3 linked regions of the Homo sapiens genome follow. The protein of the gene in region 3 purifies or fractionates together with the protein of the main gene of each other region. This does not show direct contact. Each region holds a gene or a part of one and is shown on either strand. Other genes may lie near its edges.

Region 1 (3,500 bases), on a different chromosome or scaffold from region 3:
ACAGAAGTTGTTCATGTAAATATACTTATATAGTGCACATATACAGGCTGAATATCCCAAATCCCCAATCTGAAACTTTTGAGCGCCAGCATGGGGCTCAAAGGAACTGCTCTCTGGGGCATGTCAGATTTCGGATTTGGGGCTGCACACTGGTAAGTATAATGCGGATATTCCCAGATCCAAAGCCAGAAGCATTTCAGATAAGGGATGCCCAATCTGTAATTTTGTATGTACTTTTAAACTTGTACATATTTTTAATATTGCTTTAATATATATATGTAAATACAGATAATTACCATTTTTAGTCTGTTATTTCAGTTTGTATAATTTACTTAACTGATTCTGTACTGTTGGGCATCAGAGTTGTTTCCAAATTAGTGTAATTACGAAAATCCCGAGAGACATCTTTGTGCAGACACGTTGTTCCTGCTTTGGACCATATTTCGGAAGCAGTTCTAGGAAATAGATTCTTGGACTGCATCACTATTTTTATGGCCAAAATGGGTTTCCTGCCCTCACATCGGGAATGCATATGCATCCCTGGAATCTTACTGTGTCATCATGTATGGATCAATGTTCACTTTTTGACAATTGATCGTAAGTAAAAGGGATATGATTTCCCGTTTTATTCACATCTCTCCAGGGAGGCTGAACCCATTCTTGGTTTTTGGTGACATGCTCTGGAGTTTTTGTGTAAGAATCATGATCTTCTCAGTCTTTATATGCATTCTTTTAAAATTAGACTTACACATTGATATTTGCTCCACTTATTTTTGTATGACTTGGAATTTCTTATGAAAACTAAGATTTTGGTTACTATATGAATTTTTGCACAGGGATGAGAAATGACATGTGTTGACTTCTCTCTCTCTCTTTTTCCCTAGATACTCTCTAAGTGGTGGAGGAACTTCATCCCACTGAAATTCCTTTGGCATTTGGGGTTTTGTTTTTCCTTTTTTCCTTCTTCATCCTCCTCCTTTTTTAAAAGTCAACGAGAGCCTTCGCTGACTCCACCGAAGAGGTGCGCCACTGGGAGCCACCCCAGCGCCAGGCGCCCGTCCAGGGACACACACAGTCTTCACTGTGCTGCAGCCAGATGAAGTCTCTCAGATGGGTGGGGAGGGTCAGCTCCTTCCAGCGATCATTTTATTTTATTTTATTACTTTTGTTTTTAATTTTAACCATAGTGCACATATTCCAGGAAAGTGTCTTTAAAAACAAAAACAAACCCTGAAATGTATATTTGGGATTATGATAAGGCAACTAAAGACATGAAACCTCAGGTATCCTGCTTTAAGTTGATAACTCCCTCTGGGAGCTGGAGAATCGCTCTGGTGGATGGGTGTACAGATTTGTATATAATGTCATTTTTACGGAAACCCTTTCGGCGTGCATAAGGAATCACTGTGTACAAACTGGCCAAGTGCTTCTGTAGATAACGTCAGTGGAGTAAATATTCGACAGGCCATAACTTGAGTCTATTGCCTTGCCTTTATTACATGTACATTTTGAATTCTGTGACCAGTGATTTGGGTTTTATTTTGTATTTGCAGGGTTTGTCATTAATAATTAATGCCCCTCTCTTACAGAACACTCCTATTTGTACCTCAACAAATGCAAATTTTCCCCGTTTGCCCTACGCCCCTTTTGGTACACCTAGAGGTTGATTTCCTTTTTCATCGATGGTACTATTTCTTAGTGTTTTAAATTGGAACATATCTTGCCTCATGAAGCTTTAAATTATAATTTTCAGTTTCTCCCCATGAAGCGCTCTCGTCTGACATTTGTTTGGAATCGTGCCACTGCTGGTCTGCGCCAGATGTACCGTCCTTTCCAATACGATTTTCTGTTGCACCTTGTAGTGGATTCTGCATATCATCTTTCCCACCTAAAAATGTCTGAATGCTTACACAAATAAATTTTATAACACGCTTATTTTGCATACTCCTTGAAATGTGACTCTTCAGAGGACAGGGCACCTGCTGTGTATGTGTGGCCGTGCGTGTGTACTCGTGGCTGTGTGTGTGTGATGAGACACTTTGGAAGACTCCAGGGAGAAGTCCCCAGGCCTGGAGCTGCCGAGTGCCCAGGTCAGCGCCCTGGACTGCTTGCGCACTTGCTCACCGAGATGATGCAGTTGGAGGTTGCTGATCTGTGCGATTGCTGTAGCGGTTGCCGGGGACCTTAAGAGTTATTTTGCTTCTCTGGAAGGGGCCTATGCTTGCTAGGCAGGCAGCCAGTGTGTCTGTTTTTCTTGGTTTGCTGTGGGACCTTGCTTGGCGAGGGGGAAAATCTCTGGGTTTCTGGAGTGGGAGGGTTCGTGCAGCAGCTGTTGACTGGTACATGAAGCATTCTTTTATGTTTGTTGAAGCTGATGATTGACATCTCCCGTGGGTGTGCCAGTTCTTGTGGAGTTAAGACAGGATTTTTGGAAGCAAGGAAGTTAGTGGGTGAGCTTGGGGATGTAGCTCAGCTATCTGCTGGTCTAGTGGCCTCTAAGCTATAGGGAGGGGACAGAGCCCTGAGCTACAGATGCTTGAGTGGGTTATTGTGTCGGTTTGCTAGTGCAGTCTGGTTTTTAAGCTCTAAAATTGAGGTATTTTATTAGAAGTGGATTTGGGTTGAACTCTTAATTTGTATAAGGGATATATTTTGGTTGGGGAAATAGAACTGAGTTGCTAATTCTTATTGTACTCATTACTCCATACAAGAATGTTATGTTGAATAATAAAATTGGAGAAGATTTCATTTTGTGTTTCCAGGGAGTATTCTGTGTGGGGAACTGTTTCCTTACGTGAGGCCGGCGGCATAAGTCAAAGATGAGTTTTGTCCTTGCGAATCACACAGATTGAGTCTGTGTTCCCCAGGGTGTGCCGTTACCTGATTTTTAAGTGAGCCAGGGCGGACAGCAGCTTTTCTGATTTACAGAGTTCTTCAGATTTACAAATGGACAATGACATCACAGTTTTTAGCACTGAAGCCAGTCTCATGCTAGTAACAGTGGGTGAGCCGCTCGAGGGACTGGGTTCTAATGAATACTGGTATGAACGGGGAGTCTCTGCAGTCGCCAGACAAATCATACTCAGCCCCTTCCCCCGTAGAGCAACAAGTGGTTCTTTTAGAGTTGACTGGCAGCATTTCCTGTCGGGGGAGGTGGGGTTTGATGGAGTTAGAAAGCTCGCCTCTGTGTACATTCTCTCCTGGGCTGTTACTTTCTGTAGACGCACAAAATCAGCCCCAATGTTTTTAAGGGCATCTTAGCCAAGGAAGCTGGCTTTTGTGTCGCCACTTCCAGGCCTGCATTAAGAGAGAGCCCAGGCACCAGGGCTACCACTGGAACCTGCCTCAGCGTCAACTGCTGCTGGTCTGTAGCCAGGCCCAGCCTTTGAGACGGGTTTACTGTCACCAGTAGCCTCTCAGTGCCAGCCCTGAGCTGCTCCTGGCTCAGCTGCCCAGAGCCTGCAGCCTGGGGAGGTACTCAGCCTCTGGGAGACGAGGGC
Region 2 (3,500 bases), on a different chromosome or scaffold from region 3:
TGAGATCAGTGAGAAAATGAAGGATTCAACAAATAATGGGGAGAAATGTTACATCTCAATCTAATATCTATCAAAACAAATTCTAGGCCAGGCACGGTGGCTCACACCTGTAATCCCAGCACTTTGGGAGGCCGAGGCGGGCGGATCACAAGGTCAGGAGATCGAGACCATCCTGGCTAACACGGTGAAACCCCGTCTCTACTAAAAATACAAAAAATTAGCCACCTGTAGTCCCAGCTACTTGGGAGGCTGAGGCAGGAGAATGGTGTGAACCCAGGAGGCGGAGTTTGCAGTGAGCCGAGATCGTGCCTGGGCACTCCAGCCTGGGACACAGAGCAAGACTCCATCTAAAAAAAAAAAAAAAAAAACCAAAAAAGTAAAAAAACAAATTCTAGGGAGATTAATTAAATGAGAAAACTGAAACCATTAAAAGGTGCCAATATAATATTGGCATGGGGAAGAACTTCCTGAGCCCATACTAAGGATAGAAACCCTCAAGGAAAAGACAGCCAGAGCTGACCCTGATAGGCCCTGATTTTTCAACTTTATGATGGTGTGAAAGTGATAAGCATTCAGTAGAAACGGAACTTCAAGTGCCCATACGACCATTCTGTTTTTCACTTCCAGTTTGGTATTCAACAAATTATGTGAGATATTCAACACTTTGTTATAAAATAGGCTTCATATTAGATGATTTTGCCCAACTGTAAGCTAATGTATGTTCTGAGCACATTTAGAGTAGGCTAGGCTGGCTCACGCCTGTAATCCCAGCACTTTGGGAGGCCGAGGCGGGTGGATCACGAGGTCAGGAGATCGAGACCATCCTGCCTAACACGGTGAAACCCCGTCTCTACTAAAAAATACAAAAAATTAGCCAGGCGTGGTGGCGGGCGCCTGTAGTCCCAGCTACTCAGGAAGCTGAGGTAGGAGAATGGCGTGAACCCGGGAGGTGGAGCTTGCAGAGAGCCAAGATGGCACCACTGCACTCCAGCCTGGGCGACAGAGCGATTCCATCTCAAAAAAAAAAAAAAAAAAAAAGAGTAGGCTAGGCTAAGCTATGACATCAGAGAGGTTAAGTGTATTAAATGCATTTTCTTTTCTTTCTTTTTTTTTTTTTTGAGAGGGAGTCTTGTTCTGTCACCCAGGCTGGAGTGCAGTGGTGTGATCTCGGCTCAGTGCAACCTCCGCCTCCCAGGTTCAAGTGATTCTTGTGCTTAGCCTCCCGAGTAGTTGGGACTACAGGTGCCCACCACCACGCCTGGCTAATTTTTGTATTTTTAGTAGAGACAGGGTTTCGCCCTGTTGGCCAGGCTGGTCTTAAACTCCTGACCTTAGGTGATTCACCCACCTCAGCCTCCCAAAGTGCTGGGATTACAGACGTGAGCCACCGTGCCCTGTTAAATGCATTTTTGACTATACTATTTTCCTCTTACAATGGGTTTATCAGGGCATAGCCCCATCATAAGTTGAGGAGTGTCTGTTTCAATTCACACCTTCAACAAGCATTTGCTGGGTTCCCTATATGTGCCAGATGCCATTCTAGAGTAAGAGAAACAGAACCCATCAAGATGGAGTTTAAATTCTACAAGGTAAAACTAAATTGTAGGCAAAGTAAAAAGCAGTTACTGAGAAAATAATTTGTGACTTAATAGTGTTGGTGAGCATTATCATATAAACATTTCACTAATGTGTACAAAAAACTCACAGACCAATGGAGACCAGAGTGACCAGCACGCTGAGTGATTCCTGAGAGGAAAAGCATGGAATGCCAGGACACAGGGGCCAGGCTGGCCTCACCGACAGTCCGCAGGGATGCAAAGTGAAATGATGGGGCTGCTCGATGGGGCTGCTTACCTTACCCACTTGGGAAGAGTAAGAGAGACAGGTGCCTAGCACTTTCCATGGTGGAGGGAAAGATGCATGTTTAGACCTAGCTCCTGCAGGTGGGAAGGTCAGCTGGCGCAGGTGCTCCAACAGCAATTTAGCAGGAGTGCCCAAGGCCGTAAACACCTTTGCTCAGACAAATCTACATTTTGGAATTGATCTGAAGGACATAATTAAGGATGTGCAGAAAGACAGAGATCCAACAATGTTACAGTCCTCAACAACCAGCCACAGCCAAGCGTCCAGTGACAGGTGACTAGTTAAGTGAACTGGGGCTGCCATGAAAGGAAAGGAAAACCAGTGTCCTGACAAAACAGCCCGTGGGTGATGGCAACCATGCAGCAGATGCCTGCAGCCATCACTGCTGAGTGGGTACGATGATAGAGTTCTTTTTCTTGTTTCTTTTCTCTGTGTTTTTTTTTTTTTTTTTTTTTTTTTTGAGACGAGGTCTCACTCTGTCACTGGGGCTGGAGTGCAGTGGTACGATCACGGCTCACTACAGCCTTGACCTCCTGGGCTTAAGTGATTCTCCCATCTCAGCCTCCCAAGTAGCTGGGACTACAGGCACACACCACTTTTGCTCAGCTAATTAAAAAAAAAAAAAAAAAAAAAAGATTTTTGGAGATTTGGCTTCGCCATGTTCCCCAGGCAGGTCTCAAACTCTCAGCTTCAAGCGATCCTACCATCTTGACCTCCTAAAGTGCTGGCATTACAGGCGTGAGCCACAGCAACTGGCCAGTGATGAGTGATTTCTGTCTTATACTTTCAATTATTTTTTTCTATAATAAAGGTGTAATTTTTAAAAGTATACTTTAAAACAAATGGGGTCTGCTTCCGGTGGTGGCAGATGAGCTAATTCAAACTGACCTCTTCTTGCTGAGGGCCTGAGAAGTGGAATTAAATTTTACAAACACCTGCCTGAGGGTTTTGGCGCTCATTGTCAGGAGGAGGCAGTGCAGAGGGATAAGACCCTTGAAGAAAGAACAGGGAAAGAGGACCCCAGGGAGGGAGGACCCCACTGGGGGAGGAAGGACTCCAGGGAGGGAGGACCCCAGGGAGAGAGGATCTCAGGGAAGGAGGACCCTACTGGGGGAGGGCCCTGGGGGAGGAAGACCATGGGGAGGGAAAATCCCAGGGAGGGAGGACCACAGGGAGCAAAGGAGGACCCCAGGAAGGGAAGATCCTAGGGAAGGAGGACCCCAGGGAGGGAGATCCCAGGAAGGGAAGATCACAGGGAGTGAGGGAGGACCTCAGGGAGGGAGGACTCCAGGGAGGGAATATCCCAGGGAGAGAGGACTACAGGGAGCAAGGGAGGACTCCAGGAAGGGAAGATCCTAGGGAAGGAGGACCCCAGGGAGGGAAGATCCCAGGAAGGGGAGATCACAGGGAGTGAGGGAGGACCTCAGGGAGGGAGGGAGAAGCCGATGGAGGGAAGATCCCAGGGAGGGAGGGAGGACTCTAGGAAGGGAAGATCCTAGGAAAGGAGGATCCCAGGGAGGGAGGACCACAGGGAGGGAAGATGCCAGAGAGGGAGGGAAGATCCTAGGAAGGGAAGATCCCAGGGAATGAGGGAAGATCCCAGGAAGGGAAGATCCCAGGGAGGGAGGGAGGACTCT
Region 3 (3,500 bases):
ATGTCCCCATGCTCTCCCACATCAGCCACAGTGGCCTTCTTTCCGCTCCCTGAGTTCATTCCCACCTCAGGGCCTTTGCACCAGCTATACCCGTGGCCTAGAATGCTCTTTCCCTAGATCTTTAAAAGAGCTTCTTCTGCCACTCAGGGCTCAACTCCAACACTGCCTCCTGAGAAAGGCCCTCTCTGACCCCTGGCACTGCATCATGGAGTGATGGAGCACCATAGCACTCAGTAGAACTGAAGCTCCCTTTTCTATGTGTTTACTGATTCCCTGCCTATCTCTGTACTAGGATGTAAGTTCAGTGAGGGTGGGGACTATGTCATGTTCACGGCTGTGTCCCCAGAGTCCAGTGCAATGCTTGGCACACAGCAGGCCTTTAGAAGTATTTGTTAGATGAATAACAGGGATTATCATCATGCCTATTTGTGGCAGAGGCTAAGAGAGATTGAGGAACTGCTCGGAGTCACAAAGCTGGAAAGCAGCAAGGCTGAGATTCTGATGGAATGCTAGATTGTCAAAGAAATAATCTTACGGTCCCTTTTATGGTGGGATCCAAGCCAGGGACTGTGGGAAACCCAAGGGCAGGGCTGGAGGTGGGGCCCACCAGGGAGGGCTCCAGAGGCCAGCATGCTCTATAAGACACAGGGGCAAGTGCATGGGTGCAGGACCTGACAGCAGACATACAATACAGGTATGGGTAGGCACATGCACACATGTACACATGCCCAGACACACGCGCACGTGCACACACACATGCGCACACACATGCACAATACACACACACGCACACACTCACACACACACAGAGACACACACATGCACACACGCACGCACACACGCACACATACACACGCACACGTGCAGACACATGCACACACACGTTCACAGACATGCACACACGCACGCACACACACATGCACACAGACACACACACACGCACACACACAGAGGGAACTGGGCAGCCGCTCATGAGGCAATCCCCCTAATTTGCCTGGTAAGGTGGACAAGGCACTGGCAGGCCTATGGGCAAGGTTAAGGGCAGCGAGATCTACATCATCGGGCATCCAGGGTCAAAACCATCCTGGGTATGCAGAAGGGACTGGGATCAGAGAAAATTGTTCTGGAATGTCAGTGTGGTGGCAAGGCTGAGACCACAGCTGACCCAGGGAAGCAAATCTAGGAGCACCAGGACCCTCACGTTTTGCTTCCAGTGGGCTAGGGGAAGTTGGGCACAAAAAAACCCCTCTCTGACCTCATGTCCCCACGTGCACCATTGATACCTAACCAGTTCCAAGTCCTGGACCTCTTTGTGCACTTGATGGAAGATCCTGCCCTGGAAATCTCACAAATGTGTGCAACATTTAGAGTATATCTGGAAAGGCTCAAAGCCCTCTATCCATCCTTGATTCCATACCCTAATCTGGACAGTCTCCAAGGACCTGCCAACCAACATTGGATACTTGGAGAGAGCTCCATGAGGGTTACTTGGCAAAGAAATCTTTCTTGGACCTATTCTCTGCCCCCTGGAAACCCACCCTGAACACCCCCACTGGTTCACTACTCTTCCCCAAAATCCCAACCCAAGATTCCCTAGATCACCCAGATTTTAGCACATGGGCTAGGATCTTCAGACACACAAACACATGTGAACACACATGAACACACAAGACACACACAGACACTTAAAAGAGATGATCAATGCAAACATGTGGCATGTAGGGAGTGTCAAAACAGACCCTGAACAGCGATGCCCACACCGCAATGGGGCCTAGGATGGCCAGGCCTGGAGTGCTCCAGGGCTCCACAGGACCTGCTAGGCCACTGGCAGCATGGGCAGTAGGGTGCTGCCAGGAAGCCCTCAGTTGGGCCCCCCTAACCATGCTCCCTTGTAGCCTCTGCCAACCAAGGGGCCTGGAGTTAAGGATCTTCCCACCTCCAAGAGCTCCAGGCCCCCTCCCTAAGCCCAGGCCAGCCTCCTCCACATCCCAACTGCCCAGGGAGATGCCCAGGATAATTTGGAAGGGACGCCCACCCAGGAGCCTAGGGAACTTCCCGGATTCCACATCCCAAAGTGACCCTAAACCCTCTTAACCCACTTGGTCTTCCCAGCTTGGACCGCCTTGTGCTGCAAGGGCCTCAGACTGGGACAGTCCGGGAGAGTGGGTCAGTGCCCTTTCCTGTGTGCTCAGAAAGACCTGGCTCCAAATCCAAGCTCTGCTAGCCACAAGCTGTGTGACTTCAGGAAAACTGCCTGTCTATCTGAGCTCGGTGTCCTCCTCCATAAATGGGGGGTGCCAAGAGCATTTGTCTTCTCAAGGCACCTGTGAGGACTAAAGGAGATGGCATGTGTTCAGTGCTCAAGGGAGGGCTGCTGCCTCCCAAAACCTTCTGGGGGCTGCAAGGAACCAAGCTGGCTACCCCCAGGGGTGCCATGCCCAGGACAGCAGCACACAGCACAGGCCACTCAGCCAGCACCCATTGGATATGCGTCCTTGGCAGCTGTCAGAGCAAGTTCTGAGGCAGGGGCTTCAGAAGCCCAGCTAGAGGGTAGAGGCAAATCAAAGACTCCCGTGGGGCCAGGAGGGGGGCCAGAGAGGGCATCCCCTCCCTTTCCCAAGGCAGCTGAGGTCCCTACTGTCCTGCCCTCCCAACACCCTCACCCAAGGCCAGGCTCACTCCTATCTTTCCATCTCAGGGCACACAAGTGTAGGGCAAGGGCCAAGAACCTACGCCCTCTTTAAAGATGCCCATCCCTTTCAGGTAATGCCTGTTTGGAGTGATAACCAGCCCCCACCTGCTTTCCTTCTCTCAGTGTGGCCATCAGGGAACCAGCCCTTGCCTTGGGCTCATGTTCTCATGGTCAGGCAGGCAGAAGTCCCCGGGGCTGCATGCACATTTGCATCTTATCCTGCATGTGCTCTGCTGGGATTCTCAGGGGCCCTTGGAGCTTGCTCCACAAAGGTCATTCCTAGACATCTCCCAGCTTGCTTCTCTCCCCAACCCCCCAGCCAATTGGCACCCTCATTTGCTTAGCATTTGCGTACATCTGCATGCTGGTTGAAGAGCCCTTAACACTAATGAAATCCACAAAGTCTGCTGTCAAATTTCAAATCATGTTTACAGCTGGTGACTCTATGCCCAACTGACTTCCCTACGGGGTGAACCCTCAGTTATCAGGAACCACAAAGGACTAAGCTGTCTTGGTCAAGAGAGTTCACAGCCAGACTGACCACTGGGCCACCTTCCTCCAACTTCGGAGGGCACTGGACTCACACTGCTTCAACCCACAGGCTCATGGAGCCCACAGGCTAACATGAGCCTGTGGGTTGAGAGTTGAATCCTGAGAGCTACAATGGACTGACCAAGTGCAAATCCTCCCAACCAGCCCAGCCTCGGATACAACACCTGGGCAGAGGCAGACCTGAGAGAGCTCCACCTCTGAGTAGCTCCCCACAGTCTGCTTCAACAGCCAAGAGACAGAAACCAAGAAGCTTCCT

The links. The genes of interacting proteins can lie anywhere in the genome.
Region 1: the proteins of PSD2 (region 3) and FARP1 purify together in Homo sapiens (affinity purification with mass spectrometry; one large-scale study listed by BioGRID and IntAct). This does not show direct contact.
Region 2: the proteins of PSD2 (region 3) and FARP2 purify together in Homo sapiens (affinity purification with mass spectrometry; one large-scale study listed by BioGRID and IntAct). This does not show direct contact.

The regions. Positions count from the first base shown.
Region 1 is NC_000013.11:98,450,594-98,454,093, reverse strand, and holds part of FARP1 (FERM, ARHGEF and pleckstrin domain-containing protein 1), read right to left. Parts: 3' UTR 922-3,500; coding exon of another isoform or gene 885-921; 3' UTR 1-884. Other genes in the region: STK24 (serine/threonine-protein kinase 24 isoform a precursor), read left to right, coding at 885-921. UniProt on the Homo sapiens protein: Functions as a guanine nucleotide exchange factor for RAC1. May play a role in semaphorin signaling.
Region 2 is NC_000002.12:241,485,285-241,488,784, reverse strand, and holds part of FARP2 (FERM, ARHGEF and pleckstrin domain-containing protein 2), read right to left. Parts: intron 1-3,500. UniProt on the Homo sapiens protein: Functions as a guanine nucleotide exchange factor that activates RAC1. May have relatively low activity. Plays a role in the response to class 3 semaphorins and remodeling of the actin cytoskeleton.
Region 3 is NC_000005.10:139,802,308-139,805,807, reverse strand, and holds part of PSD2 (PH and SEC7 domain-containing protein 2), read right to left. Parts: intron 1-3,500.